Linked DNA regions of Homo sapiens. The protein of the gene in region 4 purifies or fractionates together with the protein of the main gene of each other region. This does not show direct contact. Each region holds a gene or a part of one and is shown on either strand. Other genes may lie near its edges.

Region 1 (4,242 bases), on a different chromosome or scaffold from region 4:
TACCTCCTGCAAAACCTTTTCTTAGAAAGCTGCAAAAGAACGTGCTTTAACAAAGAAAACAAATCTGGAAAAACATCCTGACACAGGCGGGGTTCCCGCAAGGGAGAAAGGTGGGCGGGGCTTCCAGGAAGATGGACCACAGGGTGGCCAGGTAGGCTGGAGCTCCGTGAAGCTCTCAGGCTTCATGAAACATGACCTCTGACTTTCAGAGTTAAAATGAGAACTAAGCCAGAGTGGTGCCGCCAGCCCGCCTTTCCCAGTACATGAACATGCACCCTCACTCTCGCCCATGTGCTCACACTCACATGGACACTCGTGCTCACTCTCGCCCATGTGCCACACTCACGTGCTCACTCGCCCATGTGCTCACACTCACATGGACACTCATGCTCACTCTCACCCATGTGCTCACACACGGACACTCGTGCTCACTCTCACCCATGTGCTCACGTACTCTCGCCCATGTGCTCACACACGGACACTCATGCTCACTCTCGCCCATGTGCTCACACACGGACACTCGTGCTCATTCTTGCCCATGTGCTCACACACGGACCCTCGTGCTCACTCTCACGTGCTCACACACGGACACTCATGCTCACTCACCCATGTGCTCACACTCGGACACTCGTGCTCTCACCCATGTGCTCACACACGGACACTCATGCTCTCTCGCCCATGTGCTCACACACACTCGTGCTCCCTCTCGCCCATGTGCTCACACTCACACGGACACTCGTGCTCATTCTTGCCCATGTGCTCACACACGGACCCTCGTGCTCACTCTCACGTGCTCACACACGGACACGTGCTCATTCTTGCCCATGTGCTCACACACTGACCCTCGTGCTCACTCTCACGTGCTCACACACGGACACTCGTGCTCTCACCCATGTGCTCACACACACGTGCTCACCCATGTGCTCACACACGGACACTCGTGCTCATTCTTGCCCATGTGCTCACACACGGACCCTCGTGCTCACTCACGTGCTCACACGGACACGTGCTCACTCTCACATGCTCACGGACACCCATGCTCACACTCATATGCTCACACACGTGCTCACACTCGCCTCACCCATGTGTGCTCACATACACACGGACACTCGTGCTCACACAGATACTCGTGCACTCTCGCCCTTGTGTGCACACACGGGCATATGATCTCCCAAATGTGCATACTCGTGTCCCTCACACACTCACCAGAGCACCCGCAGCACAGAGCCAGGCTGGCCCAGGCCCTGGCACAGCTCCCGCACGCCCGCATCCTCCAGCCTGTTGTTGCTTATCTGTAGCTCCAGGAGAAACCTGTTCTGGGCCAGCACTGAGCTGAAGTGGGAGCAGCAGGCGGCTGTGAAGCTGCAGGACTTCACCCTGTGGACACAGACAGGACTGACGCCTGGCAGGGGCCCAGGCTGGCCCACAGCTGCGACTGGCCCTTCCCCTGAAGGCCCCACGTGGACCTGAGCAAAAACATCTGACAGCCTCCCAGCAAGTGGGCACCTACACCTGGTCCTTGGCCCCAAGCACTGTTCCCATCAAACCACAGGCTGCTCCCTGGCCTATGCATTCTGAAGGTCGGAGCTGAGCCCAGCAGCTTCCCTGGAGTCGCTCACTCCTCCCCTGGTCTCCTCGGTCACCCTGGCCCTCTCTTGGGCGACAGGGCCCTGCCCCGACAGCCACACTCACCACAGCGACTCCAGCTGGCAGCCAGGTTCCAGCAGGGTCTCACACAGCAGTCGGGCACCCTCATCCCCCAGCTCGTTGCCGGCCAGGCTGAGCTCCTTCAGGCTCTCCTTGGCCCTGAGGACACGGCACAGATCCCCGCAGCCCTTGGCAGTGATGCCACACTCCCAGATCCTGCAGGACATGGACCACCACAGACTTTCCTCAGCACCGTCTCATGGCCTGAGATGAGCCCAGGGGCGGGGGAGAGCTCTGAGGACGGCCCGCCGCCCGACCCTCCGGGAAGGAGGCCTCGCGGAGATGACTCACCACAGGGTCCTGAGCCTGGAGCTGGGGTGGAGCAGCCCTGGGCACAGCTCCGCCATGCCCACATCACCCAGCTTGTTGCTGCCCAGGGCCAGCTCCCGCAGCGAGGCCTTGGAGGCCACAATGCCGCACAGGTCCCGGCAGTTGTCTGATGTCACACCGCAGCTCTCCAGCCTGGGGACACGGGTCACACGTGAGGCAGCACGGGACCCCCCCTAGCCCACACCCCGCACCCCCCCAAGGCCCAGTGCCTACTTGAGCGCCTCCAGCTGGCAGGGGGAGTCCTTCAGGCCCTGGCACAGCACACGGACGCCAGCCTCATTGATGTCGTTGTTGCTAACCGTGAGCTCCTTGAAGTCCGGCTTGGCCCTGAGCACGGAGGCCAGGGGCTCGCAGCTGGCAGCCGAGAGGCTGCAATACTCCAGCCTGGGGGACAGCAGAGCTCAGCACCACACAGGAATGTGCACCAGCCAAGGGTGTGATACCAGGGAGCACGGGGTGTGCTGGTGTCTCATCTCCCCTCAGTCTTCTGCCTGGGCATCAGGTGTCAGTGCTGAGGGACCCCCACAGACTCATCCAGAGGCCCGGGCCTCTGTGGACACCGGCATTCCTTCTGGAAACCCCTCACCCCCTCCCGGACCTCAGACTTTGGGGCCCAACCAGGCCCGGGAGAAAGAAACCAGCCTCTGGAGGGCAGGGCCACCTGCACGTCCCAGGCTGTGGTCAACTCACAATGGCCGGGTCCCCCACACACACTGAGGCGGTGAGTGGAACCTGACTCACGGCCAGGCATCTGTTCCCACCGTCGGGTCCTGGGGCAGCTGTGCCTTGCAAAGGACAACTGGATGGGGAGGGAGGGTGATGACAGATCCCCCCAGCCCCAGCATCATGGGGAGAGGAGAGCACCACAAGGCCCCAGACCCAGCATCATGGGGAAAGGAGAGCACCACAAGGCCCCTGTGACCTGAGTCCCCTCCTCACGGCTCCTGGCAGGCGATGTTCTATGTAGGGGGCTGGCTGGGGGACAGGCAGCGGCCAGCATGGGCCCTGGGGCAGGACACAAACTCACTGCAGCTTTTCCAGGCGGCACTGGGGGTCCAGGAGTCCTTCGCAGAGCAGCTGCAGGCCCGCATCCCCCAAGAGGTTGTCGCTGAGGTGCAGCTCCTGCAGGGTGGGCAGGGTGCGTAGTGTGCTGGACAGGACCCCGCAGCCGGCCCCCGTCAGGCAGCAGTTCTGGAGGCTGGAGCATACCTGGCTGTCAGCAGGGCTCCCCTGAGCCAAGCTGCCACGCCCTTCGCCTGCCAGAGCCCAGAGCCCGGAGCAGCACTCTTCAGGCGGCAGGTCTATACCTGCTCCTTCCCTGGACGGGGCTCTGGGGTCTGGGGTCTCCAGGCCGAGTGAAGGAGGGCACGCATGTGGCTCGACCCAGGGAAACCTTGTCTGCAGACACACCTTTCAGTGGGGGTCTGTGGTGATGCTGGAAGGCTAGGGATGGCGGGCAGGGCCAGATCTTGGGTGCGGGGGCTGGGATAAGGCAGGAAGGGCCCTGTCCCCCCCGCTGTGAGACCGCCAGGCCTGTGTGCCTCTGGCTGATGTTGGAAATGTCTGCTGCCACTGCCTGTCCACCTGCAGCTGCCCACGCGCCCCTGGCGGCTCTGTCCCCTGCTGCCGGGCTACCAAAGCAGACTGCACCAGGCCAGAGGCAGTGCCAGGCCCCGCCTCACCTCAGCTTCTGGATCTTGCAGGAGGGGGTCTGCAGGCCCTGGAGCACGCAATGCACGCCGACATCGCCCAGCTCGTTGCTGCGCAGGTTGAGCTCTGCCAGTGCAGGGTTGACTCGAAGTGCAGAGCTGATGTCCTTGCACCGTGCTTCCGTGAGGCCACAGTCGTCCAGCCTGTGAGCAGACCCCAGGGTCATGTGGACCACGCAGACAGCACTGGCCTCAGCCTCCACCACCACCCCACGTGCAGGTTACAACCTATCAGTGGGCCCAGAAGACAGCAAGGCAAGTCACACAAGACATTTCAGAAATGAAACAAAAAGGAGGAACTGTTCCATGAAAGTTTTGTTTAAGATGCTCGCACGTGGCCAGGCGCGGTGGCTCACGCCTGTAATCCCAGCACTTTGGGAGGCCGAGGCAGGCAGATCACCTGAGGTCGGGAGTTCAAGACCAACCTGACCAACATGGAGAAACCCCGTCTTTACTAAAAATACAAAAGTAGCCGGGCGTGGTGGCGCATGCCCAT
Region 2 (4,242 bases), on a different chromosome or scaffold from region 4:
AAGGGAAAAACGAGTAAGCACAATCCTAATAAATTCAGTACAAACCTTTGTTTTTCTAAAATATACATCAAAGTCAATATCATCTTCAAAGTCAATTTCAAAATCTTTTTTTGTACTCTTCTTTTTGTTTTCTGATTGGGAAGGAGCATCTTCTGCAGAGTGAACACAGACGTCAGCACTTCACTTCTGTGGCCTAAACTATTTACTCATTTCACAAGATCTGCTGACAGCCTTATCAAGGCTTATCAAAACCACAAGGCAGCATTGTGTCTGAGCATCACAACAGTAGGAGTGCTCAATCACACACCCTCTTTTCATCCTAAACTTATAATTTGTGTTTTGGCTAAGAAAACACATCAGAAACATATGCTTGGCCAGGTGCAGTGGCTCATGCCTGTAATCCCAACACTTTGGGAGGCTAAGGCAGGAGGATCACTTGAGGCCAGGAGTCGAGACCAGCCTAGGCAACAAAGCGGGATCCCATCACTATGGAAAATTTAAAAATTAACTGAGCATGCTGGCATGCCCTTGCAGTCCCAGCTATTCAGAAGGCTGAGGTGGGAGGACGCTTAAGCCCAGGAGGTCAAGGCTGCAGTAAGCCATGATTCACCACTGCACTTCAGCCTGGGTGACAGTGTGAGACCCTGTCTCAAAAGCAAAACAAAACATAAAACAACAGATGCTTATCCCTTTCTTTCAAAGAGACAATGCAAAACACATAAGGTCAGCACAGCCCTTTGGAGTTCTACAGAATGCCAACATGTGCAGTAGCTCCTGTGTGCCCTCTAGTGCCCGGGGGTCATGCCCACCCGTGACCACTGAGTGAAGTCATGTGGATACTAGGGAGCAGTGTGAGGCTGGGAGTCCAGTTCTCCTGACTCCAGTACTCACTCTCCTCACTCAGAGGCTTCCATTTTCACTGTCCCTTCATCCCAGGCCAGGCAAACTGACCAACCAGGAGGCTGGCTCATCTGTATGCTTCCTCGGCTTATTAAGAGACACAACAGGGCTGTGACTGGCATTTCTTTTCCTTGGCTAACTGCTGACTGGCTGGTCATCTACACTACTTCTTTTCTTAAAATTCCACCTAGAATTACATACGTTTGCGTCGAGGCCTAAAGCGCCAGTGATCCGGGCCAGCCCACATCGACATGGTCCGAGGACTGAAATAAGAATATTCTCCAGGTTTCATAGACAGAAGGGGGCACATGGTCCTGATGTCTCCATCCCCAAGGGAAATCATTTCTTCCCTGTAACACACATATTTGTACATGTACAATACATATATTATAATGCTGTATTTACATATGAAGCATATGTCCGCAAATGAGCTGCATTTCTGTGAGTCCAATACAAATAACTTCATTATTAATAATTCCTTTTACTTCTCAAGTACTTTTCCTTCCCTTAATTTTATAACAATATAATCATATCTATACAAGTACTCTGGAAGTTTCAAAGTGCACCATAAAATGCTAGTCTACCTAATTTGAGAGACAAGATGACAAAAGTAAAGAGAATTCTTTTGGCTGGGCGCGGTGGCTCACGCTTGTAATCCCAGCACTTTGGGAGGCCAAGGCGGGCGGATCACAAGGTCAGGAGATCGAGACCACCCTGGCTAACACAGTGAAACGCCGTCTCTACTAAAAATACAAAAAATTAGCCGGGCGTGGTGGCGGGCGCCTGTAGTCCCAGCTACTCCGGAGGCTGAGGCAGGAGAATGGCGTGAACCCAGGAGGTGGAGCTTGCAGTGAGCCGAGATCGCGCCACTGCACTCCAGCCTGGGTGACAGAGTGAGACTCCGTCTCAAAAAAAAAAGAGAATTCCTTTGGGTAAGAATCTACAGCTAGTAAAATGCCGGAGCTGGGAGCTGGACACAAGTCCCTTAATCCCAGCCTCGGGGTCTTTCCACACACATGCTTCTTGCCACACAAGATGACAAATCCCTCATTCGTCACCATCCTTCTGTAAATGAGGGCTCCAAAAGATACCGCTATAGTTCCTACTAAAAGTGAAAAAACATGTTTGTCTAATTATTTAGTTCCTCTAACGCTTTGGGGGCTCCCCTTATAATCTGTTAGGTCATCCAGCTTTATTCTTTGCCGTGTGTAAAGTGTCTAAGTGGTCAGTGCAGCATGGCAGTTTCAGTTTGGTTTTTCACTCTTTCTACATTTTTAAAAAATAGAGATGGGGTCTCACTATGTTGGTCAGGTTGGTCTTGAACTCCTAGCCTCAAGCAATCCTCCTGCCTCAGCCTCCCAAAGTGCTAGGATTACAGGCGTGTCAGGATTATACCGTGCCCAGCCATTTTTCACTCTTTCCACAAGGTACAAGCTTTCTCCTAAAGGGCTCCAACATGTCAGAAAGGACGCTGGTGCTGCTGTACTGCCCTCTGAAGGTAAGGTAACCAAGAAGTTTCAGAAGAGTGGCCTTGTATTTGTATTGAGCCTACATATAGTTCCCGTTTATATAAGCCATATGGAATAAGCTAAAAAGGCTTTTAAAAGGGGATTTTGTCTTTACATACAGAATTTTAAAAAACAAAAACAGGAGACTACATTTGTGCATTTATTGTGTAATTAAAACCTAATTTAAAAAAATAAAATACACAATAAAAAAATCACATTTCTAGTCTGTATGGCCTAGTGCTGTAACAGAATCTGATACCTAGCATGTTATTAAGTAACAAATGCACTGTGCTGTGAACTCCAGAGGTAGAAGGAAGAAGTTTCAACAGCATCCCCACTCCATTCTGATGGATATTCTTCCATTAGGAAGAGTGGCTCCCATTCCCAATTCTGGTGATGGAGCTGGACAGAGGCTCTGCAGGATTTTTGAACTGTAGTAATTCAATAATTCTTTCAACATACAATGCTATGTCGCAGGCATCCTACCAGTCCCAATTTCACCACTCAACAACTAAATGAATCCACCTATAGTCCAAAATAGTCTATCCATTTTTCAAGGCTGCCCACTTCAAACATCTCCAGTCCCTCCAGGAAAACTCTGTATTTCTTCTATCCCCTCCCCATAATATCACAGGGTCCCTCCTTCAATTTAGCCATGGTTCAATCCACTGTCCTAACACTGGCAAGATAAGGTCTCCTCCCAGCTGGCTCAGCACATCAGGCAGCATGCAGCCGAATGTTTCATTCTCGCATGCGTGAAGTAGGCTGTGTTCTGGGCTTTGACCTCCGACTAGGTCATTAACCACAGTAACTGCCTTATGTAAGCATGCTGGTACTACAGAAGGGTCGGCCAGAGAACACTTGGCTCCAAGTGTTCTTGGGCTGCTGTTGCTGCTGCACAGAGAGGGAGCTCACTCTTAGACATCAAGCACTTTTGCAGACCAGTCCTTACCAATGCATGTGCACAAAGAGCTCCACCTTTTACGCTTGCAGTTGTCAATGTGCTGCCATGCAGAGACCAATAACGTGAGGCATCTACACAACACTGGTATTTATCACTCAGCATTGCCCCACCCCACCTTCATCCAGAGGCCTCCGAAGACCTCTCAGTAGAGTACAGTGGTTTTCAGCCCTGGGTGCAGAACACAATCACCCGGGGATGGTAACGTGATGTCTGGCCCCCTCTACCCACTGAGATGCTCAGGTGGTGTGGACTGGAGCCTGCCATCCAAAGCTCACTATATGTGGCCAGGACTGGTCAAAGGTGCTGGGTGGCAACCAGCTCCACCCCATTAAACTCTCTGAGCCTGTTTCCTCATCTGTAAAATGAGGATAATAGGACCTAATTATAGGGTTGCTGCAATAAAATAATTAATTTTAGATATTATGTAAATTATGTGAAATAACACACATAAGGCACCTGGCGCAGCATCTTGCACAAAGAATAAGGAGCTCAATAAATATCAGATATTGTTATTATCAACTGGTCCCAACCTTGCATTTTATGGATGAGAAAACAAAGACCGCAAAAGGTGATAACATTGCCCCACATCTCAGGGCTAGTAACGGCAAGATCAGATCTACTCCAGATCAAACACTCACTGAATTCCCAGGAAAGGCCAGCGATGTGGCAAGGGGAGGGGATTTAAGGATGGGTAAAATCTGAGACTAGAACTGCAGCCTCCCACGCCTAATGTACTAGGTAGGATAGAGTCTAAGATTTTGTGCTGTTTGGAATAGGGGAGAGAAGTGGAGACATTTGTTCAAAATAACCAGCAGAAAACATCTTCCAGAAACCAAATAAAAGTCATGGAAGCCCTTTGTTATTGTCAGT
Region 3 (4,242 bases), on a different chromosome or scaffold from region 4:
ATACTACTTTTAGAAGACATTTTTCTGATAACATTTTCATAATCCTTATCTTTAGGTTCACAGTTCCGGAAGTGCAAACATCATAAATAATTATTGATATGTGTTAAACAGTTTTTTTTGGTTTGATGGTTATTTTTGTTTGGTAAGTCTAAAGTATGGAAGAGTGGTATGTGATTTAAACAACCATGCCTCTGTGTTTCAGGTGCCCTTCGTTTTAAAAGAAAGATTATTGGATTAAAAGATGAGTTTTACAACCGCTACATAATGAAAAGTTTTTTGTTTGAACCAGTAGTGAAAGCATTTCTCAACAATGGATCCCGCTACAATCTGATGAACTCTGCCATAATAGAGATGTTTGAATTTATTAGAGTGGTAGGTTCTGTATTTTTAATTAGAATTTTCATTTTAATTGTTTGAGAAAATTGAATATGCATTACCTAGTATTTTGGCTTGAGATGATAATATTTGGAGAGATTTAAAAAAAAAAAAAAGTACTAAAAGCCTGTGAGAGATTTGAGTCAAGCTACATCTTACCTCTCAGCAGCTACAAATCTGTTATAGCAGGGGTCCTCAACCCCTTGGCCGCGGACCGGTCCATAGCCTGTTAGGAACCAGGCTGCACAGCAGGAGGTAAGCTGCTGGCAAGCAGGCATTATTACTGCCTGAGCTCTACCTCCTATCAGATCAGCAGCAGCATTATATTCTCCTAGGAGCATGAACCCTTTGGTTAACTGTGAGGTGGAACAATTTCATCCTGAAACTGTGCTCCCCCACTCCCACCCCAGTTGGTGGAAAAATTGTCTTTCATGAAACCAAAAAGGTTAGGGACTGCTGCTTTGTAGGATGGTCACAGTAATCATTTTAAGAAAGCAAAACTACACTTGACAGATAAGCATTTGAATGTGTTTTTCTTAACTTACACATTTCTAAAGACCAATTTCATAATACTCTTTATTCTCTAGTAATGTAATAAGCTAGTGGTTCTCATTGATGCTGTGCAAATTTATCTGGCATGGCTTTTTGTTTTGTTTGTTTCTTAGAGACAGGGTTTTGCTATGTTGCCCAGCTGGGCTCAAACGATCCTCCCACCTTAGCCTCACAAGTAATTGAGACTGGAGGTGCATACCACAGTACCTGGATGTCGTGCTTTTTTAAAAGCTGGGATAAAATAATATAAAACATTAAACTTGCTATTTTAACCATTTTAAAGTAAACATTCACATTGTTGGCAGCCATCACCATTATTCATCTCCAGAACTTTTCTGTAACATGCTTTTTTTGGGGGGTGAGGGAGGGGGGTGGGGACAGAGTCTCACTCTGTCACCCAGGCTGAAGTGCGGTGGCATGATCTCGACTCACTGCGCCTTCCACCTCCCAGGTTCATGCGATTCTTCTGCCTCAGCCTCTAGAGTAGCTGGGATTACAGACATGCGCCACCATACCCGACTAATTTTTGTATTTGTAGTAGAGATAGGGTCTCACTATTGGCCAGGCAGGTCTCAACCTCCTGACCTCAGGTGATCTGCCCACCTTGGCCTCCCAAACTGCTGGGATTACAGGCATGAGCCTCTTCACCCGGCCTGTGACATGCTTTTAAAATACGCATGGCTGTTGTGTGTTCTCTCTTGTAAGTGGGAACTAAACTTTGAGTACACATGGAAATAAAGAAGGGAACAACAACAGATACCAGAGCCACTTGAGGGTAGAGAGTAGGAGAAGGTGGGGATTGAAAAACTACCTATTGGGTACTGTGCTTACTACCTGGGTGATGAAATAAGCTATACACCAAACCCCTGTGACACGCAGTTTACCCGTATAACAAATACGCACATGGACCCCCTGAACCTAAAATAAAAATTAATTAATAAAACATATATGTCCATGGCCAGGGATAGTGGCTTATGCCTGTAATCCCAGCACTTTGGCAGGCCAAAGTGGGAGGATTGCTTTAGGCCAGGAGTTAGAGACTAGCTTGGGCAACATATCAAGACCCCATCTCTACAAAAATTTTTTGTTAAAACTTAGCCCCGTATGGTGGTGCATGCCGATAGTCCTAGCTGCTCAGGAGGCTGAGGTGGGAGGATTGCTTGAGCCCAGGAGTTCAAGCCTGCAGTGAGCTATAATCATACCACTATATCTCAACCTAGGTGCCAGAACGAGACCCCATCTCTAAAAAATACACATACCCAGCCCGCACATCAGAATCAGAATCACCTAGGGCAAGACCTGGGCATTTACTTTGTAAAGACCCATAGATAGCTGGGTGCAGTGGCTCGCACCTGTAATCCCAGCACTTTGGGAGGCCGAGGCAGGCAGATCACCTGAGGTCGGGAGTTCGAGACCAGCCTGACCAACACGGAGACACCCCATCTCTACTAAAAATACAAAATTAGCCAGGCGTGGTGGTGCATGCATGTAATCCCAGCTACTCTGGAGGCTGAGCCAGGAGAATCGCTTAAATCCAGGAGGCAGAGGTTGCAGTGAGCCGAGATCATGCCATTGCACTCCAGCCTGGGCAGTAAGAGCAAAACTCCATCTCAAAAAAAAAAGACCCATAGATAAATTGGGGACTACTATAGTAGCCAGTGTACGTTATTCCCATTTTTTATTGTTTGGTTATCTCTAAGATTATGTAGTTTTATTAAATTAAGCTATTTTTGGTGGGTATGAATTGATTAAATTAAGCCTCATCTTGCTAAAATGACATTTTCCTATCATTTTTTCATTACTATTCTTTTCTGTAGGAAGATATAAAATCATTAACTGCTCATGTAATTGAAAATTACTGGAAAGCACTGGAAGATGTAGATTATGTACAGACATTTAAAGGATTAAAACTGAGATTTGAACAACAAAGAGAAAGGCAAGATAATCCCAAACTTGACAGGTAAATTACCATATATTTAAACCTATTCGTTCAGCATCAAGTCGTATGGTAGTGGCTTTATTGTTTATTTGATATTATTTGGCTTGACAAGGAACAGGGAAATCAGCAGATAGCAAATAGAAATTGTAGCTTCCTGTAAGGGTCAACATAAATGTTTCCCTGAAGATTAGGCTGGTTATTAGTATAATACCTCAGGCATGTATCAGGCTAGATAAGGGAAAAAAAAAAAAAAAGACCAAACAGTGGAAGTGAGGCTTCATGTGTTCCAAATAAAATCAGAGGATTATATTACTTGCTTTGAATTTACAAGTTACTAAGGTTACAAATTATTATTTAAAATTTTGTACATTAATCTAAATACCTGGATTTACATTGATACTTTAATATTTGTAAATTTCATGTTAATTCCCTATGTTAACAAGTTTAATAAGTCATCTGTAACAGTACAATTAAGTCCATATATGATTGTATTTACTCTTTCTTCCCTACTCATAGTATGCGTTCCATTTTGAGGAATCACAGATATCGAAGAGATGCCAGAACACTAGAAGATGAAGAAGAGATGTGGTTTAACACAGATGAAGATGACATGGAAGATGGAGAAGCTGTAGTGTCTCCATCTGACAAAACTAAAAATGATGATGATATTATGGATCCAATAAGTAAATTCATGGAAAGGAAGAAATGTATGTTGGAAAAAAATGGGCAAGAGAAAATTAAGGCTTTCTTACTCTAGATTTATTCTTATTTCTTGACAAAATGATTATTTGCTTGGAAGGTGTGATGGCATACGGTTTAAAGACTCTATTGCTTTATGGGATGTGACTGAATAGCAGTGTTGTGTAGGCATAAACTTAAGTTTTCTTAATTTGAGTTGAATAAGGAATATACTATTTCAGGAAGGGTAGGGATACTAAATATGATTCTGAAGGTTTCAATTCTTCTCTGGGGTAAGATCCAATGAATGGAATTGTGGTTAGTATTTTGGTAAGCTTCTTTTATAAATTGAACTTCAATGTTTCTACCCAGCGTAGTAAGCTAGTTAAATGTGTTTTAGTGTTACCTCATTTGGGGAAATTTAAAAAAGAAGTATGGGGGACGACTATTGACAGTATTCTCATTTTTAGTAAAAGAAAGTGAGGAAAAGGAAGTGCTTCTGAAAACAAACCTTTCTGGACGGCAGAGCCCAAGTTTCAAGCTTTCCCTGTCCAGTGGAACGAAGACTAACCTCACCAGCCAGTCATCTACAACAAATCTGCCTGGTTCTCCGGGATCACCTGGATCCCCAGGATCTCCAGGCTCTCCTGGATCCGTACCTAAAAATACATCTCAGACGGCAGCTATTACTACAAAGG
Region 4 (4,242 bases):
GGAGGATTGCTTGAGCCCTGGGAGCTGGAGGCTACAGTGGGCCATGATATCACCACTGCACTGCCGCCTGGGAAACAGAACAAGACTCTGTCTCAGAAAACAAACAAACCAAAGAAAACTGTTTGTTTTAGGCTCCTCCGTTAAAGGGTTGGTTAATCTAGGCCCATTTAGTGAATTATTTTATTTTCTTTCCTGCCTTTTCTAGATCCCCTCTAGATGAGAGTCTCTTTAAACTAGATCCTTTTTAAAGTTTAATATTCTTAGTGTATAAAGTAAGAAAGATTAATTAATAACCCATTTATGCCTAGTGGTCCATTATTGGAATGCTAAGCTTGTGGGAGTTATTCATATCCTACTGCTCAAGGTCATCGCTAAGGTCTGATTTTTTACAAAAAAAATTTGCAACCTCCGGCATAAATGGGTTAATATTTAATTCTTTTTTTTTTTTGGAGATGGAATCTCACCCTGTCACCCAGGCTGGAGTGCAGCAGTGCAATCTCAGCTCACTGCAACCTCCGCCTTCCAGGTTCAAGCGATTCTCCTGCCTCAGCCTCCCAGGTAGCTGGGATTGAAGGCATGTGCTGCCACACCCAGCTAATTTTTGTATTTTTAGTAGAGATGGGGTTTTATCATGTTGGCTAGGCTGGTCTTGAACTCCTGGCCTCAAGAAATCCACCCACCTCACCCTCCCAAAGTGCTGGGATTATAGGCGTGAGCCACCGCACCTGGCCTGAATTATTAATTTAAGAATAAGTCATGTTTGAATTTGATAGCCTGGTTATATATCTTTTACTAAATATGCCCTGACAATTCAAAGGAAAGGTTTTGTGATAGAATATTAAACATATTTCAGTTTATTAATTTATTTTAGGTCATTCTTTATATTTCTCCCTACTATTTGTATGTGTGTATCCCTCCCTTCTCTCTCACTTGAGAAGAAACTATGACAAAACCCAAAATAAGAGACAGCCATAGTAATTGTCTGAATATTAACTGCTGTATTTCATTACCATGTCTTATTATCTTTTCTGCTCCTTGGGCTTCCTAGTTTGTTAATGTTATTTCTGGTACAATTGTTGAAATATGTGATGTAAGCTTTTGACTTTGGCTTTTCTGGAATTTTGGTGGTTTCTTTTTTTTTTTTTGACTAAAAGTTGAAGCCAGGTGTGATAGTGTGTGTGCCTCTAGTCCCTGTTATTCAGGAGGCTGAAGTGGAAAGATCACTTGAGCCTGAGAGGTCAAGGCTGCAGTGAGCCCTGATTGTGCCACTGTACTCCAGCCTGGGTGACAGAGTGATACCCTATCTCTAAAAAATAAATAAATAATAAACAAATGAACAAACTTAAATATAGAAGGATTCAGTCCCTGAAAACTATAACGATAGTTAAGTATACTCAGATTTCTTTCCTTTTGCCCTCCCTTTCCAGCAATGACTCAGATGCATATAAAGATCAAATATCAGTACTGCCAAATGAACAAGACTTGGTGAGAGAAGAAGCCCAGAAAATGAGTAGTCTTTTACCAACTATGTGGCTTGGAGCTCAAAATGGCTGGTAGGTGTCAATGCTTTTAACATTAGAATATGTTGTTTTACTTTTGCTTTTGAAATCAGAAGATAAGTAAAATATGGTAAACAAATACAAAAAGTGTGGATTAATGCAAAGAATTTTATATATACACACAATTTGATGTTATGTTGCAACTACCACATAAACTGGACTTGCACTGGTTCTGAATAGTAAGCCATATGTTTCTTTGTCACAGAATGTTCCCTTTCTATAATATTCTTGGAAGAAGAGGTATGTAAAATTTTAAAATCGAGGTGCTCCAGAAATAGAAGATCCTGAACAGCACAAAGACAGAGAATATTTAATTTATGTAGGCTAGAATGTGGGCAGGAAAACAGGGATTAAACCAACATTTTGGCTGCAGGAAGGCCCAATCCCAACTTTTAGTGAATTTTTTACTAAGATAGGTAAAACAAATCACAATCTGCAAAGTCAGATGATGATGACTAATATTATATGGTTTGTTCACTTTCCGGTTGTGTGGAGAGTTTTACAAAATTGTGCATTTACAAAGGTTAAGCAAGATTACTGTTGAGCATCTCTAATCCAAAATTTAAAACTCTTTGACCACTGTTATGATGCTGGCAGGTAATGCTCATTGGAGCATTTTGGATTTTTGAATTAGGAATACTCAACTGTTATGTATGATGTAAACATTCTAAAATCTGAAAAAGTCAGAAATCCCAAGCATTTCAAATAAGGGTTACTCAACCTGTAGTATGTCTTTTTCATATGAGTCCAATACTATAAAGTGAAGAGTTGGCAAACTTAGTGTAACTCTCTTCCAGTAGAGCATTATGGGCATTGTAGTTTGAATTTCATATAAATCTCCCCTGTCGTAAAATACCCTTGATTTCCCCCCCACACACACTTTTAAAAATGTAAAAAGTATTCTTAGCTTGCAGGCTGGATTAAAACAGGTGGCAGACTGGATCTGGCCTGTAGGCCATAGTTTGCCACTCCCTATGTGGGCCACTCTGTCATCCAAAAGTTATAGATCAGTGTAGTAGAGAGGTAAGGCAATTCAAAAAAAGAGTTTTGCCCAAGGACTAAGTGTGTGAACCTGACTGTGCATTGCACTAGTTCTTGCTTTTCAGTCTTCATATGTTTTTCTTTGCTCAGCAGCCTATTTCTTTACCTTAGGCCTACCCTCACTCTCATTTTTCTTTTCTGACCATTGCACAAAAGCAGCAGCACCTTTTCCTAAAATTTGTATGTTACTCTTCTTTCCTTCTGAATGAACTTCGCGATCATTGTTAGATATATGCAATGTCTTGATGTTCTCTATGCCTTACCAGTGTTGACTTTGTTCTTACAGTTTGTATGTCCATTCATCTGTAGCCCAGTGGAGGAAATGTCTCCATTCCATTAAACTTAAAGATTCGATTCTCAGTATTGTGTAAGTTTTATTTTGGAAATTCTTCTTGTTAAAACTATGCATTTTGGTATAAACTAGATTTTAAGACTTTGAAAGCTAATACATGTTTCACGACTAAATTAGTATCCAATTTGTTTGTTTTTTTAACCCTTTTTATGGAACTAGAGAAGTTAAGTGAGAATGAAACTGTATAATAGAAAACGAAGTAGAAAGGATAACTTGCTTGATTGAGTCCTCACCATACTGCGATTTATTTAGCACTGCAGGAAATAACCAATACCTATTAAGTTATGTTTATTTTAGAATATTCTTTATGGCTTGTAAATATGTTGATTGGGGCATTGATTACTAGTTCTTTTCTATGTGTTCACTGTAAAAAAATCAGACAGTTTATCTCTGAGCCTACAGGGCTGACTCTGTTGGTTCCACTCAAGGTGCATGTCTCTGGTCTTTAGAGTTTGTGTTGATTGTCTGTGATGAGAGGAGAACCTTGGGCCAGAAAGTGAAATAACTGAGATACCATTCATACTGTTTATTTAGTTCAGCTGACATTTTTTCATAGCAGGACATCCACAGTGAAGAAAGTGGTGTGTTCATTTATATTCAGGTGTCAGCTCCTTAACTCATCACAGATTGGCCCTTTGTGAGGCCTTGAACTAGTTCAGTAGCATGTGGTCCCTTCTGTATTCCTGAATGGAGAGTTCTGAACTCCCCTTTCCTGTTTGCAGACACGTGAAGGGAATCGTGTTAGTAGCCCTGGCTGACGGCACCCTTGCAATCTTTCACAGAGGAGTGGGTGAGTGGTGATGTGTGTATAACATGGACACTAATTTGTTGCTTTGCAAAGCATTTTTAAGTAGATTGGTTTATGTTTTAAAGAAATGATACTCAGTTTAAAGAATAAATACTAACAATACACAACATCAGTAAATATATTAGTGCGTGCATGGAGGTATACATTAACAGATACCTTAGGGAAAATGTGTTTACCACAATGGGCATTTTATGGTGCTTTTATTTTATTTTATTTTTTGAGACAGAGTCTCGCTCTGTCGCCCAGGCTGGAGTGCAGTGGCGCAATCTCAGCTCACTGCAAGCTCCGCCTCCCGGGTTCACACCACTCTCCTGCCTCAGCCTCCCGAGTAGCTGGACTACAGGCGCCTGCCACCACGACCAGCTAATTTTTTTGTATTTTCAGTAGAGACAGGGTTTCACTGTGTTAGCCAGGATGGTCTCGATCTCCTGACTTTGTGATCTGCCCGCTTTGGCTTCCCAAAGTGCTGGGATTACAGGCGT
Region 5 (4,098 bases), on a different chromosome or scaffold from region 4:
TGTTGGGATTATAGGCATGAGTCATTGCACTTAGCCTCACTTGAGTATTTCCAAAACAGACTAGGGATTGTTAAGGAGCACTGATAACACTCACTACTTTTTTGACTTCTGCCATGGCTCAAAGTAAAACTTTGAGCTTTACTATTATATATATTAGAGACCACTTTATATATATATGTGTGTGTGTATATATATATATATATATATATATAATATGACCATAATTTATACATATTAGCACTTATTCTAGTTTGTATAAAGAGTGATGGGATCTAGAGGAAATCTGATGCTTTGTACACACACATATATGCCACTCCAAAAAAACATGGCTACTGAGAAGTACAGATAAGAAAGGCCTGTTTCATTTCCAATCTTTTCCCTGGAAGTTGCTGGAGAAAATATTAAAATCAAGGTGACAGCTTTTTAAGTCATGACCTCACAAAAACAAACTGACACTCAATAATGCCCCACAATCTTCCATCTTTCTAGTGTACTCTCTGAGATGACCATCCATACCTCACTGCTGCTCAAAACTTCTTTGCCCCTCTCCTAACTGATGAAATATGAAAGGGCTTTTTAATCTCCATTGCCTAGGCCAAGACTTCATCCTTCTTTTTATCCCTTTCTTCTGAGTCATCTCTCTCCTTTTCTGTTTATGCTATTTTCATTAGCAGAATATATGTTCTAGTCCATGCATTCCTCTCCAGCTAGTCCCATTTCTCAACTCGTTCTCACAGCCATATTTTTCAAAGGAGTTGTCTCTACTTTTCACCCATCTACACTCCTTGACCCACCATCATCTAGTTTCTGCTCCAAAGCACAACGGAAATGGTCAAGCTCACCACTGACCTTCAGTTTTCTAAATTAAATATTAACAGATACCTTTATCTTTTTTTTTTTTTTTGAGACAGAGTTTCACTCTTGTTGCTTAGGCTGGAGTGCAATGGTGCAATCTTGGCTCACTGCAACCTCTGCCTCCCCGGGTTCAAGTGATTCTCCCCCCTCAGCCTCCTGAGTAGCTGGGATTTCATGCATGTGCCGCCATGCCTGGCTAATTTTGTATTTTTAGTAGAGACGGGGGTTTCACCATGTTGGCCAGGCTGGTCTCAAACTCTTGACCTCAGATGATCTGCCCGCCTTGGCCTCCCAAAGTGCTGGGATTATAGGCGTGAGCCACCGTTCCCAGCCTGATACCTTTATCTTTATTATAGTCAACCTTTTAAATTGATCACTCATTCTAGAAAGTCCTCCTTCTCTTGGCTTCTGAAATGACATTCTTCTCTTTGATCCATTGCTTTTCAGATCTTCTTCTGCCTGATCCTTAGATGTTGAGATTCCTTAGGGCTGGGTATGGTGGTGCACGCCTATCGTCCCAGCTACTCAGGAGAATGAAGCAGGAAGATCACTTGAGCCCAGGAGTTTGAGGCTATGAACTATGATCTTGCTGCTGCATTCTAGCCTGGGTGACACAGCACAGGGAGACCCTGTCTCAGAGAAAAACAACAACAGAAGATTCCTGCAGTCTTCCTCCAACATACATCTAAAGTGTTTTCATTATTCTGCATCTCTTTTGGCCATTCCTTACTCCAAGACACCATTATTTCTACTTAATTTATCTTCTCATTTCTTTATTCCTCCTTCGAATCCAATATTAAAACCCAAATCAATGTCTGAGCACAATGGCTCATGCCTATAATCCTAACACTTCGGGAGGCCAAGACAGGAGAGTCACTTGAGGCCAGGAGTTTGAGACTAGCCTGGGCAACATATTGAGATTCACCCAGGCTGGAGTGCAGTGGTGTGATCATGGCTCACTGCAACCTCTACCTCCCGAGTTCAAGCAACTCTCCTGCCTCAGCCTCCAAGTAGCTAGGACCACGGGCATGTGCCAGCATACCTGGCTAGTTTTTGTATTTTTAGTAGAGATGAGGTTTTACCATGTTGCCCAGGCTGGTCTCGAACTCCCAAGCTCAAGAAATCCACCTGCCTTGCCTCCCAAAGTGCTAGGATTACAGGCGTGAGCCACTGCATCCAGCCCAAAAACATTAAAAAAAATTATCCAGCTGTGGTAGTGTGCACCTATAGTTCTAGCTACTCAGAAGCTGAGATGGGTAGATCCCTTGAGCCCAGGAGTTCAAAGTTGCAATCAGATATGATCTTACTACTGCATTCCAGCCTGGCCAACAGAGCAAGACCCTGTCTCAAAAAAAAAAAAAAAAAAAAAAAAAGAAAAGAAAAGAAAGGAAAATTTTAAGTTTCAAATTTTTGAAACTGCATCCCCAGAAGACACCTTGAAAGACCTTGATCCAGAGGTACCCAGTAAGCCACACCTGGATTCCTGACCCACAACACAGAAATGATGAGATAACGTAGTTGTTTTCAGCGGGTAAAAGAAACCCAAAACAAATAAGGATCACATCTCTGCCCTTCAAGGAAATCTAAGGTTTCCTACAGGTCTTAGAATAAAATCCAGACTCCTGATTATGGCTGGAAAGGTCTTATTGGACCTAGCCCCAGCCTACCTTTCAGACCTTATCTTGGGCCGCTCCCTTAATCCAGCCACGTTTTCAGTTTCAGGTACTCAGCAAGATCTTTACAAGGGGCTCCCTCATCCTGGAATGCTCCTTCTGGCTCTTTACTTGGCTGACTCATTTCAGAAACGAGCTTAAAGTTCATCTCTGAGGGTCCTTCCCTGACCACCCTCTCTATTATCTGTTTCACTATGATGTTGGTTTCCTTTATAATACATCATAATTTGAAATTATTTTGTTTTCCTATTTACTATTTCCTTTTTGTTGTTGTTTTTTTTTTTTTGAGACGGAGTTTCGCTCTCGTTGCCCAGGCTGGAGTGCAATGGCGCAATCTTGGCTCACCGCAACCTCCGTCTCCCGGGTTCATGTGATTCTCCTGCCTCAGCCTCCCGAGTAGCTGGGATTACAGGCATGGGCCACCACATCCAGCTAATTTTGTATTTTTAGTAGAGACGGGGTTTCTCCATGTTGGTCAGGCTGGTCTTGGGTCTGGGGTACTGTTTTCTTTTATTTCTTTGGTCTCCCACAGGAGAGCGTGAGCTTCGTGAAATTAGGGCTCACAATTCACTTTTATGTTCCTGTGTTCCTTGTGCCAGGCAAACTGCCAGACACATAGTAGAGGTCTCATAATATTTGTTAAATAAGAAAAATGCATCTTTATTATTATTTTCTAACACAGTCCATATAACTATCTAAGGCACACGTTGAGAGTTTCATTTAACTCAATCTGAGATGAGACCAGATTTCCCTAAACTATGCGTGCTTCCAGTGAACCTATTTGATTTCTTGTCTCATTTATTTTATGAATGCATTTTTATTGGCTTTTGTTTCCCCCTTACTAGGGTATTCTCATAGCAAAGAGAAGATACAGAATTTAAGGTAAGAATAATGGAATGGGGTTGGGAAAAGGTGAGAATCTTGGAAGTCCCTACTCTAACATGTCTGATCTTTTCTCTGAGAAATCCTGTCCTGGGGCTTTGAGATCTGAGTTTATACTTCCTTCTTTCTCTAGGTCTAGTTATGAAGTGAAAATGTAACATGCTACTGTGTGTACTTCCTGACACCTCTAGCTTCTTTAGTTCTAAAGTTAAGGTATAGAATTTATCACCCTAATAATACAACATGCTTATTCATCTCGATATTAATGGTTTTTCCACTGAACTGAAACATCAACGGATTGAGCTCCTATTATATCCAGGGTCTGGGCTGCACTTAGGCGTTACAGAAGTGAGCAAGAAACCCAGTATCTGTTCTCAGCATTTCTGTAAACAGCCCAGGCATTTTCAACTTTAGTTTCCTATTAGAATCACCCAGGCACTGAAGTGTACTAATGCAGGGCCAACCCCAGAGCAACTGAATCAGAATCTCTGGGGATGAAGCCTAAGCATAGAAATTGTTCTAAAAGCTCTCCAGGTGATTCTAGTGAACAGTCAGGGCTGAGAACTGCTAGTCTGTTATAGACTCCTGTCTTGACCTTCGTTCCTGATTATACACACCCACACATCCATTTCAAATAGGTATGGCTTACATAACTTACTAGATTTTAGACTTTTAGTGATGTTTGGCA
Region 6 (4,242 bases), on a different chromosome or scaffold from region 4:
GTCTTGATCTCATGCTAAGATGGCTTCTGCAGCACTGCTGCAAAGTCAATGTATTGAAAAAGGCAAGTATCACCTGAGTACTACTGTGAAAATAGTTTTTACTTCACAGACATTTGGAATGAGTTCAGGGGTTGCCAGACGACATTTAGAGAACCACTGGACTAAATGATATCAATTTTGATGGCAGCTACGGACTCCGACCAGAGAAATGCACATATGTACAATCACACACAATTTCACACACATCATCAGAGGGTTCACAAAGCCCTTATAACCCATCTATATATAGCACATCTCAGCTAACGAACGCCATCAGCAGACCAGCCTGGGCAACATGGTGAGATCTGTCTCTACAAAAAAAAATTTTTAAAAACTAGCCGGGCGTGGTGGCCTGTGCCTGTAGTCCCAGCTACTCAGGAGGCTGGGGCAGGAGGATCGCTTGAGCCTGGGAGGTTGAGGCTGCAGTGAGCCATGATCACGCCATTGCACTCCAGCCAGGATGACAGAGCAAGACCCCGTCTCAAAAAAAAAAAACAAAAAAAAGAAAAAGGAAAAAAAAAAGAATGGCATTAGCTGAAAATTCAACAAATCTCCAAATTATATTTAATTACTTCAAAATAAAAAGTATCTACTAGGCATTACAAATAAACCTTGTTATAAACAGGAGTTGCAGTTCAACATCAAACGCCTTCACCTGAACTAAAAGGAGATTAAGTTTTGAAATAAAATTATATTAGGAAAAGTGAAAGGTCTAAGGTAAGAATCCCAGCTTCACCACCTGCTCAAGATTATACAGTTAATTAACTTTCCCACCAGTATCTACTTATTTCACAGGGTATTTGTGAAGAACAGTAAATAAATAGATGTAAAGGACCTAAAACAATGCCTGATACATAGTTAAGCACTCAAAAAATGTAGGTACTCAAGATGGCCATGCCATGCCTTCCTTACAATGACTATATAGCAGTTTATTTATAGAAAATCTAATTTGCACCTAGGCTTTTTCTTTTCTTTTCTTTTTTGAGATGGAGTCTTGCTCTGTTGCCCAGGCTGGAGTGCAGTGGCACGATCTCGGCTCACTGCAACCTCCACCTCCCAGGTTCAAGCAATTCTTCTGCCTCAGCCTGAGTAGCTGGGACAACAGGCGCGCACCACCACACCCGGCTAATTTTTGTATTTTTAGTAGAGACAGTGTTTCACCATATTGGCCAGGCTGGTCTCAAACTCCTGACCTCGTGATCTGCCTGCCTCCGTCTCCCAAAGTGCTGGGATTACAGGCGTGAGCCACCGCGCCCCGCCAGCTTTTACTTTTCTTTCTGTCTGCTGAGGAAGCACCTTATGGATACTTGATTACTTAATTACAAATTCCATCATCACCTTAAAGGGCAACGAGATTACAGTTGAGGATATTAACTAAAATTTTTTAGCTATTTCCAATCCTTCAGTTTTCCTATTTAACAGCATTAAGAAACGTACCTTTCTTCCTACAATCAACTTTAAGATAAACTAGGCAAACACTTATATGCAAATACGTAACATACTGTAACCTCTTCACTGATTTAATACATTTTTGCTTCAACCTCTCATCATTCTGCTTATTCCACAATTTTCAAGAACTTGATTTTAATATTTTGTTCACTATTACAGAGTACTAAGAAACACCTAAGGCTAATTTTTGTTTTATTTTAATAACATGACAAAATGTCAGCAATATGTTTTCAATGGCCATTCTCTCTCATAATTTTTTGTCAAATGAATGTGAAAAAACTTAGTATTTTAAAACAAAGCAAGAAAACTATTTGATGCTAAACAGATACTATCATTCATGGTATTTAATGGGTAAACTTACACTACTACTTTAAGTGACTGTACTGAGTGAGGTCTACTAGACTTCAGTAGTAATGCTAGTGTTAAGAAAAAGAAGTGTCACATGTCATACAAGGTAAGGATATTAAATAAGACCTTTACCATAGGTCATTAGGTTTCGGAATACAGCTAATGTGCCACTATTTTTAAATCCACAAAACAACAGGGTTCTACTTTTTCTACTAACTTACCTTACTGCCTAAATCTAACATGCATACTACTCTAAGAAACACAGAAGACGGCCTGGGCAACACAGCAAGACCTTGTCTCTAACAAAAAAAAAAAAAAGAGATGCAGAAGAGAAATGATTTTAAATTGTTTACATTATAGCATTAAACATATGGAATGGACTAAAACCATTAAATTGTGTGAGATATCATAATATGGACTGTTTTTCAAATTTTTACTTATGTCCTTATTTGGGGCATATTTTAGCCTCTACCATTTAAAAAATATTTTTTCAAGACCCAGTCCACAAGGCTAAATCCTACCAAAAGTAAACAGAAAGCAAAGAGTTGAAAACACACAATGTACTTGGATCCAAGTTTCATAAAATAAGACTTTATAAGATAATATCCTAAAATAATTTCCTGTGAAAGTTTAAGACTATCAAATATGCAGATGAGGTTCATTATTAAATATTTAATAACATCTGATATTTTAAGATTACTAAACAATGAAAAATCTACATTAAAATAATTAAAATAACTATCTTGAATGGTTAAGTTGTTCCTTTTTTTTTTTTGAAACAGAGTCTTACTCTATTGTCCAGGCTGGAGACCAGTGGCACAATCACAGCCTAACTGTAGCAGACCTCTCAGGCTCAAGTCTCAGCCTCCTTAGTAGCTGGGACTACAGTTGCACACTGCCATGCCCTGCTAATATTTTTAATTTTTGTAGAGAAAAGGTCTCACTATGTTGTCCAGGCTGGTCTCAGACTCCTGGATTCAAGAGATCCTCTCGCCTGGCCTCCCAAAGTGCTGGGATTACAGGCGTGAGCCACTGCACCTGGCCTGTTCTATTATTTTGACCAATTATTACACACTTCAGATTATCCACATGTATTTGAATTTTTAATAATTTATTTCCACAAGTAAAATTTAAACACATTATCAAAATCATTAGAAAAAATTTCTTACTGTTCGACTTTAAGAAATGAACTTGGCTTTCTATTTTGTTAAATTCAGATTTTAAAAACAAGTATTACATTATTAAATAACAAAAGGATGGGAAAGGGTCCAGTGATGGAACCATACATGGGGCAACACTGGCCATTGACAACGCCGGGTGACAGGGGTTCATTATACTATTCCACATACTTTCTGTAATGTTCCAGATTGATTACGTTTTTTAAAAAACCAAATAGTCAAATTAACAAACAAGCAATTACTGTATTACCTTGAGGATGAAATAAACACTGCAGAGCACTACTGGTTCAGCAGAGAATGTGTGCGTGGTCATAACAATTTAAGCACTGACGTCCAATTTAATCATAGTGTGTGATGTAACATCGGGGCACAATGGGGACAGAAATGGGGGTGATAATGTGAATAGCTTAGTTATCATCTACTAGAGGAGCAAGTCAGCTGGAAATACTAAAATTGACAAGATATAGAAATACCATTTTATTCCCAAAAAGGAAATGAAGCACCAAGGAACCCAGCGGAAGAGTTGAACAACTGCTCTTAGGAGATGGACTAGGGATTAAGGAGTGGGGAGGTAGGGGACTGCCATTTTTCATCCTAAACCCTTTAATACATTATTAGATTTCCAAAAACTTCTTACTGTAAAATGTAACAGATAAAGAAAACCAAAAATTGAAACAAAAATGTCCAGGTTACTCTTTACAAACATCTGTACAACCACCATCCCAGTCAAGATAGCCCACAAGGGCCTCCCCAGCCCTTCCCGATCACAACTCCTTTCCAACAGCTTAAGGGTAGCCACTATACTGACTTTTATAGTACTTTTTACAGTATGTTTTTTTCCTTTTACTTCATAGCTTTTCTTCATAGTTTTACCAGCTGCATATGTGCCTCTAAACCTATAGCTTAATTTTGAATGTATTTTGTAATTTACTAGTGGAATCAAAGAGTATGTATAACACACATATATGCTATTTCCTTCACTTTGAGAAATTTTTAGTAGGCTTTAAAGACAAATCCTCAATATACTCATACTCCAAAGACTCTTCCTTCAAAGTAACAATAATATGAAGGTTCAAGTAATAATATCTAAATCCTCATAAGGCTCTTTTCTGCTGGGTACTGTTCTGTTTTATGTGTATAAACTCATTTAATCATCAAAACAACACTGTAAGACAGGTTTTATTGTTATCCTCATTTTATAGAGGGGAGCTAGGCACAAAGAGATGAC
Region 7 (4,242 bases), on a different chromosome or scaffold from region 4:
GAGGCAGGAGAATCGCTTGAACTCAGGCAGCAGAGGTTGAAGTGAGCCGAGATCATGCCACTGCACTTCAGCCTGGGAGACAGAGTGAAACTCCATCTCAAAAAAAAAGAATTAATGTAGTTTTTCCAAAGTTTTTCTGGTACAGAAATCTATATTTTTAAACATTTGGCAATTCAGCCTTAAATGTTATAACTTTTAGACCTAATGCATTTTTGTAAAGTAGCCAAGATAATGGAAGTAAGTAAATATAAATAACACAAGTAAAACAAAGGGATAGATTAGAATTCTGCATTAGAAAGTGAAAGGAGGGCCAGGTGCGGTGGGTAAGCCCAGCACTCGAGGCAGGTGGATCACTTGAGGTCAGGAGTTCAAGACTAGCACGGCTAACACGGTGAAACAACGTCTCTACTAAAAATACAAAAATTAGCCAGGTGTGGTGGTGGGTGCCTGTAATCCCAGCTACTCGGGAGGCTGAGGCAGGAGAATCGCTTGAACCCGGGAGGCAGAGGTTGCAGTGAGCCAAGATCAGGTCACTGGACTCCAGCCTGGGCAAGAGAGCAAGAGTCTGTCTCAAAAAATAAAAAATAAAAAAATAAGTTAATCTAAGTCCGAAAAATATAAGTATTTGTTAAAATTAAGATTGGCAGGATATTACTACACTCTGATCCTAGGAAAAAGGAAAAAGACTAATATGCCTTGACTAATTTTGTTTTGTCTTTTTTCTGATAGAAAAACCACGTGGGTTTAATCCTTCCAAAGATTCACAGAAAATAAATAACAACACATAAGTTGGTAAGGAAAAAAAAAAGAACTAAACACGTCTGACAACATGCTTTCTACTAGTCTCCAGCGTGGGTGTACCGGCATTATAAGGGAGCAAGACCAAGCAAGCACCTTTTCGGACAGACATCTTAGATTAACAAGCAGACACAGTATCTGTTTATACACTTCCAAGAGTATGTTTAAAGCCTGTATTTTTTAAATGGCTTACAAAAAAAGGTATACAAAAACATAATTTTGGCCACACACACACACAAAGAGTATTAGAATTAAATTATACTTTTATACTTTTCTTTCAGACACAAGCATTTATCAGGTATCTGGTTCATCTTCAAACTCAAAAAAAAAAATTTATAGAAACCCCTATGTAGTCTGTTAAGTCCTTCACTCAACCATTCTTTTTTATTTTTTGAGATGGAGTTTCGCTCTTGTTGCCCAGGCTGGAGTGCAATGGCACGATCTCGGCTCATCGCAACCTCTGCCTCCCACTCCCAGGTTCAAGCGATTCTCCTGCCTCAGCCTCCTGAGTAGCTGGGATTACAGGCATGTGCCACTACACCTGGCTAATTTTGTACTTTTACCAGAAACGGGGTTTCTCCATGTTGGTCACGCTGGTCTCAAACTCCTGACCTCAGGTGATCCACCCGCCTCAGCCTCCCAAAGTGCTGGGATTACAGGCGTGAGCCACTGCGCCCGGCCTCAACCATTCACTTATATATATATTAAATATTAGAAACTGAAGTATCAAGATATTCACCACTTCCTCTGACCACTGTATTAGAGTTTTAAACTGGGTTTCAGCTTTGAAACAAAAAATAACCACCCTTCTGAAATTTTTTACAAAATCATAATACATATTGAAACATATCCAGAAAAGTTAGAAAATATAGGTAAGCATAAAGAAGGAAAGATTCTTTTGTTTTTGTTTTTTTGAGACAGACTCTAGCTCTGTCACCCAGGCTGGAGTGCAGGGGCACAATCTCAGCTCACTGCAAACTCTGCCTCCCAGGTTCAAGCAATTCTCCTGCCTCAGCCTCCCAAGTAGCTGGGACTACAGGTGTGCGCCACCACACCCAGCTAATTTTTGTATTTTTAGTAGAGACGGGGTTTCTCCATGTTGGCCAGGCTGGACTCAAACTCCTGACCTCAAGTGATTCGCCCACCTCGGCCTCCCAAAGTGCTAGGATTACAGGCATGAGCCACCATGCCTGGCCAGCAGTAAAGTTTAACTGACTATAATCTTAGTTACCAGAAATCAAACAGCTAGGTGCCTAAAACTTATTCTAAAATGTGTATACAGTAAAAAAAATTATTGGTCCTAGTTCCTTTACAAATTAAAACATCTGCCCAAGCATGGTGGCTTGCACCTATCCCAGCACTTCCAGAGGCCAAGGCGGGCAGATCACTTGAGAGTAGGAGTTCAAGACCAGCCTGGCCAACATGGTAAAACCCCGTCTCTACTAAAAATAAAAAAAATTAGCTGGACATGGTGGCAGCCACCTGTAATCCCAGCTACCAGGGAGGCTGAGGCAGGAGAATCACTTGAACCTGGAAGGCAGAGGTTGCAGTAAGCAGAGATCATGCCACTGTACTCCAGCCTGGGCAACAGAGTGAGACTCTGCCTCCAAAAAAAAAAAAAAAAAAAAAAAAGCCAGGCATGGTAGCTCATGCCTGTAATCCCAGCACAGCGGGTGGATCACCAGAGGTCACGAGTTCAAGACCAGCCTAGCCAACATGGTGAAACCTTGTCTCTACTAAAAATATAAAAAATGAGCAGGGCATGGTAGCACCTGTAATCCCAGCTACTCGGGAGGCTGCACTCCAGCCTGGGCGACAGAACGAGACTCCAACTCAAAAAAAAAACAAGAACAAAAACTAAAATATCCTGAAAACGATTACTTAAGGAGTTAAAGTTGAAAATAATTCTATGCAAGCACAAGTTTAGGTAGTTCAAGTGTAAAAAATACATAACTGAAATCCTTCTTGCTTAACAGAAAATTAACTCCAGAGAAGGAAATATGTATGACAAAAAAACAGCCTCCCAAAAGTTGAAGGAAAAAAAAACACTCAACTAAACATTTGAAAATTATTTTTTCAAGTACTAGTCTGTCCAAAGCAAATAAGAAGGACTCAGCTGGGCAAAGTAGCATGCTCCTGTATTCCCAGCTACTCAGGAGGCTGAGGCAGGAGGATCGCCCTGTTCAGGCCAGGAGTTTGAGGCTTCAGTGAGCTATGATGGCACCACTGCACTCTGATGACAGAGTGAGAATATGTCTCAAAAAAAAAGGATTCCACTTACATAAAACTTAAAAATTTGTAGCTGTAGGCAAACTTAAAAAAATTATTTTAAAAAAATATTTTTAAATCATACTTTACCTTTGAGATTCCTAGAATGTATAACCAACTCTCTCCAGTACACTTACCCCTAAAGAAAAAAAAAAGGAAAAAGGAAAAAATAATAAACTGAATGTCTTATCACTGGAATGTACCTACTTTCGCTATTAAACTACCTACAAACATTACAAGTAGCTGGGCGCAGTGGTTCATGCCTGTAATCCCAGTACTTTGGGAGGCCGAGGCAGATGAACTACTTGAACTCAGGAGTTTGAGACCAGTGTGGGCACCTCTACAAAAACTACAAAACTTGTATTTAAAACTCGTCTGGTCAAACAAAAATAAAATACAAAATACAAGTTAGCCAAGCATGGTGTCATGTGCCTGTGGTCCCAGCTACTCAGAAGGCTGAGGCAGGGGAATCTCTTGAGACAGGGAGGTGGAGGCTGCAGTGAGCTGTGATAGCGTTACTGCACTCCAGCCTGCATGACAGACCAAGACCTTGTCTCGAAAAAAAAAAAAAAAAAAAAACAATGTTAGGGGTAATTATTCCAAATAAACTAATGAAACTGAAGCATACATTTACAGAGCAGCAACTTTTGTATTGTTAGTTGCACCAACAAAAGATCAGTACATATTGTCACAATTTCCAGAACGCCATGATCAGGTAGTGTTACCATGTAAGGTAATAAGAACTATGTGCCATCACTGGAGACCAGCTCACAAACCCTCAGTGGAGCCAGCTGCGTAAAGTGAGAAGTGACAACATTGTGACGGTGGCTAAGAAAGCACCAGTAGAATAAAGTTCTTGGTTTTTTTTTGGGGGGGGGGGTTGTTTGTTTGTTTGTTGTTGTTTTTTTTTGAGACAGAGTTTTGTTCTTGTTGCTCAAGCTGGAGTGCAGTGGCGTGATCTCGGCTCACTACAACCCCAGCCTCCTGGGTTCAAGCGATTCTCCTGCCTCAGCCTCCTGAGTAGCTGGGATTACAGGCGCGAGCCACCACGCCCAGCTAATTTTTTGTATTTTTAGTAGAGATGGGATTTCATCATGTCGGCCAGGCTGGTCTCAAACTCCTGACCTCAGGTGATCCACCCGCCTCGGTCTCCCAAAATGCAGGGATCACAGGTGT

Evidence for each region.
Region 1: the proteins of SPAG9 (region 4) and RNH1 fractionate together in Homo sapiens (co-fractionation; one large-scale study listed by BioGRID). This does not show direct contact.
Region 2: the proteins of SPAG9 (region 4) and NCAPH purify together in Homo sapiens (affinity purification with mass spectrometry; 2 studies listed by BioGRID and IntAct, with this or other methods). This does not show direct contact.
Region 3: the proteins of SPAG9 (region 4) and PPP4R3A purify together in Homo sapiens (affinity purification with mass spectrometry, with the first as the bait; one large-scale study listed by BioGRID). This does not show direct contact.
Region 5: the proteins of SPAG9 (region 4) and HAVCR2 purify together in Homo sapiens (co-immunoprecipitation; one large-scale study listed by IntAct). This does not show direct contact.
Region 6: the proteins of SPAG9 (region 4) and PPP2R2A fractionate together in Homo sapiens (co-fractionation; one large-scale study listed by BioGRID). This does not show direct contact.
Region 7: the proteins of SPAG9 (region 4) and GAPVD1 purify together in Homo sapiens (affinity purification with mass spectrometry; 2 studies listed by BioGRID, with this or other methods). This does not show direct contact.

The regions. Positions count from the first base shown.
Region 1 is NC_000011.10:496,765-501,006, forward strand, and holds part of RNH1 (ribonuclease inhibitor), read right to left. Parts: intron 3,891-4,242; coding exon 3,720-3,890; intron 3,236-3,719; coding exon 3,065-3,235; intron 2,422-3,064; coding exon 2,251-2,421; intron 2,170-2,250; coding exon 1,999-2,169; intron 1,864-1,998; coding exon 1,693-1,863; intron 1,378-1,692; coding exon 1,207-1,377; intron 1-1,206. UniProt on the Homo sapiens protein: Ribonuclease inhibitor which inhibits RNASE1, RNASE2 and angiogenin (ANG). May play a role in redox homeostasis. Required to inhibit the cytotoxic tRNA ribonuclease activity of ANG in the cytoplasm in absence of stress.
Region 2 is NC_000002.12:96,356,053-96,360,294, reverse strand, and holds part of NCAPH (condensin complex subunit 2), read right to left. Parts: intron 1,251-4,242; coding exon 1,102-1,250; intron 153-1,101; coding exon 46-152; intron 1-45. UniProt on the Homo sapiens protein: Regulatory subunit of the condensin complex, a complex required for conversion of interphase chromatin into mitotic-like condense chromosomes.
Region 3 is NC_000014.9:91,461,380-91,465,621, reverse strand, and holds part of PPP4R3A (serine/threonine-protein phosphatase 4 regulatory subunit 3A), read left to right. Parts: intron 1-202; coding exon 203-372; intron 373-2,744; coding exon 2,745-2,887; intron 2,888-3,382; coding exon 3,383-3,573; intron 3,574-4,014; coding exon 4,015-4,241; intron 4,242-4,242. UniProt on the Homo sapiens protein: Regulatory subunit of serine/threonine-protein phosphatase 4. May regulate the activity of PPP4C at centrosomal microtubule organizing centers.
Region 4 is NC_000017.11:50,984,423-50,988,664, reverse strand, and holds part of SPAG9 (C-Jun-amino-terminal kinase-interacting protein 4), read left to right. Parts: intron 1-1,427; coding exon 1,428-1,553; intron 1,554-2,886; coding exon 2,887-2,967; intron 2,968-3,674; coding exon 3,675-3,742; intron 3,743-4,242. UniProt on the Homo sapiens protein: The JNK-interacting protein (JIP) group of scaffold proteins selectively mediates JNK signaling by aggregating specific components of the MAPK cascade to form a functional JNK signaling module.
Region 5 is NC_000005.10:157,088,253-157,092,350, reverse strand, and holds part of HAVCR2 (hepatitis A virus cellular receptor 2 precursor), read left to right. Parts: intron 1-3,373; coding exon 3,374-3,410; intron 3,411-4,098. UniProt on the Homo sapiens protein: Cell surface receptor implicated in modulating innate and adaptive immune responses. Generally accepted to have an inhibiting function.
Region 6 is NC_000008.11:26,297,631-26,301,872, reverse strand, and holds part of PPP2R2A (serine/threonine-protein phosphatase 2A 55 kDa regulatory subunit B alpha isoform), read right to left. Parts: intron 1-4,242. UniProt on the Homo sapiens protein: Substrate-recognition subunit of protein phosphatase 2A (PP2A) that plays a key role in cell cycle by controlling mitosis entry and exit. Involved in chromosome clustering during late mitosis by mediating dephosphorylation of MKI67.
Region 7 is NC_000009.12:125,267,899-125,272,140, reverse strand, and holds part of GAPVD1 (GTPase-activating protein and VPS9 domain-containing protein 1), read right to left. Parts: intron 3,206-4,242; 5' UTR 3,157-3,205; intron 1-3,156. UniProt on the Homo sapiens protein: Acts both as a GTPase-activating protein (GAP) and a guanine nucleotide exchange factor (GEF), and participates in various processes such as endocytosis, insulin receptor internalization or LC2A4/GLUT4 trafficking.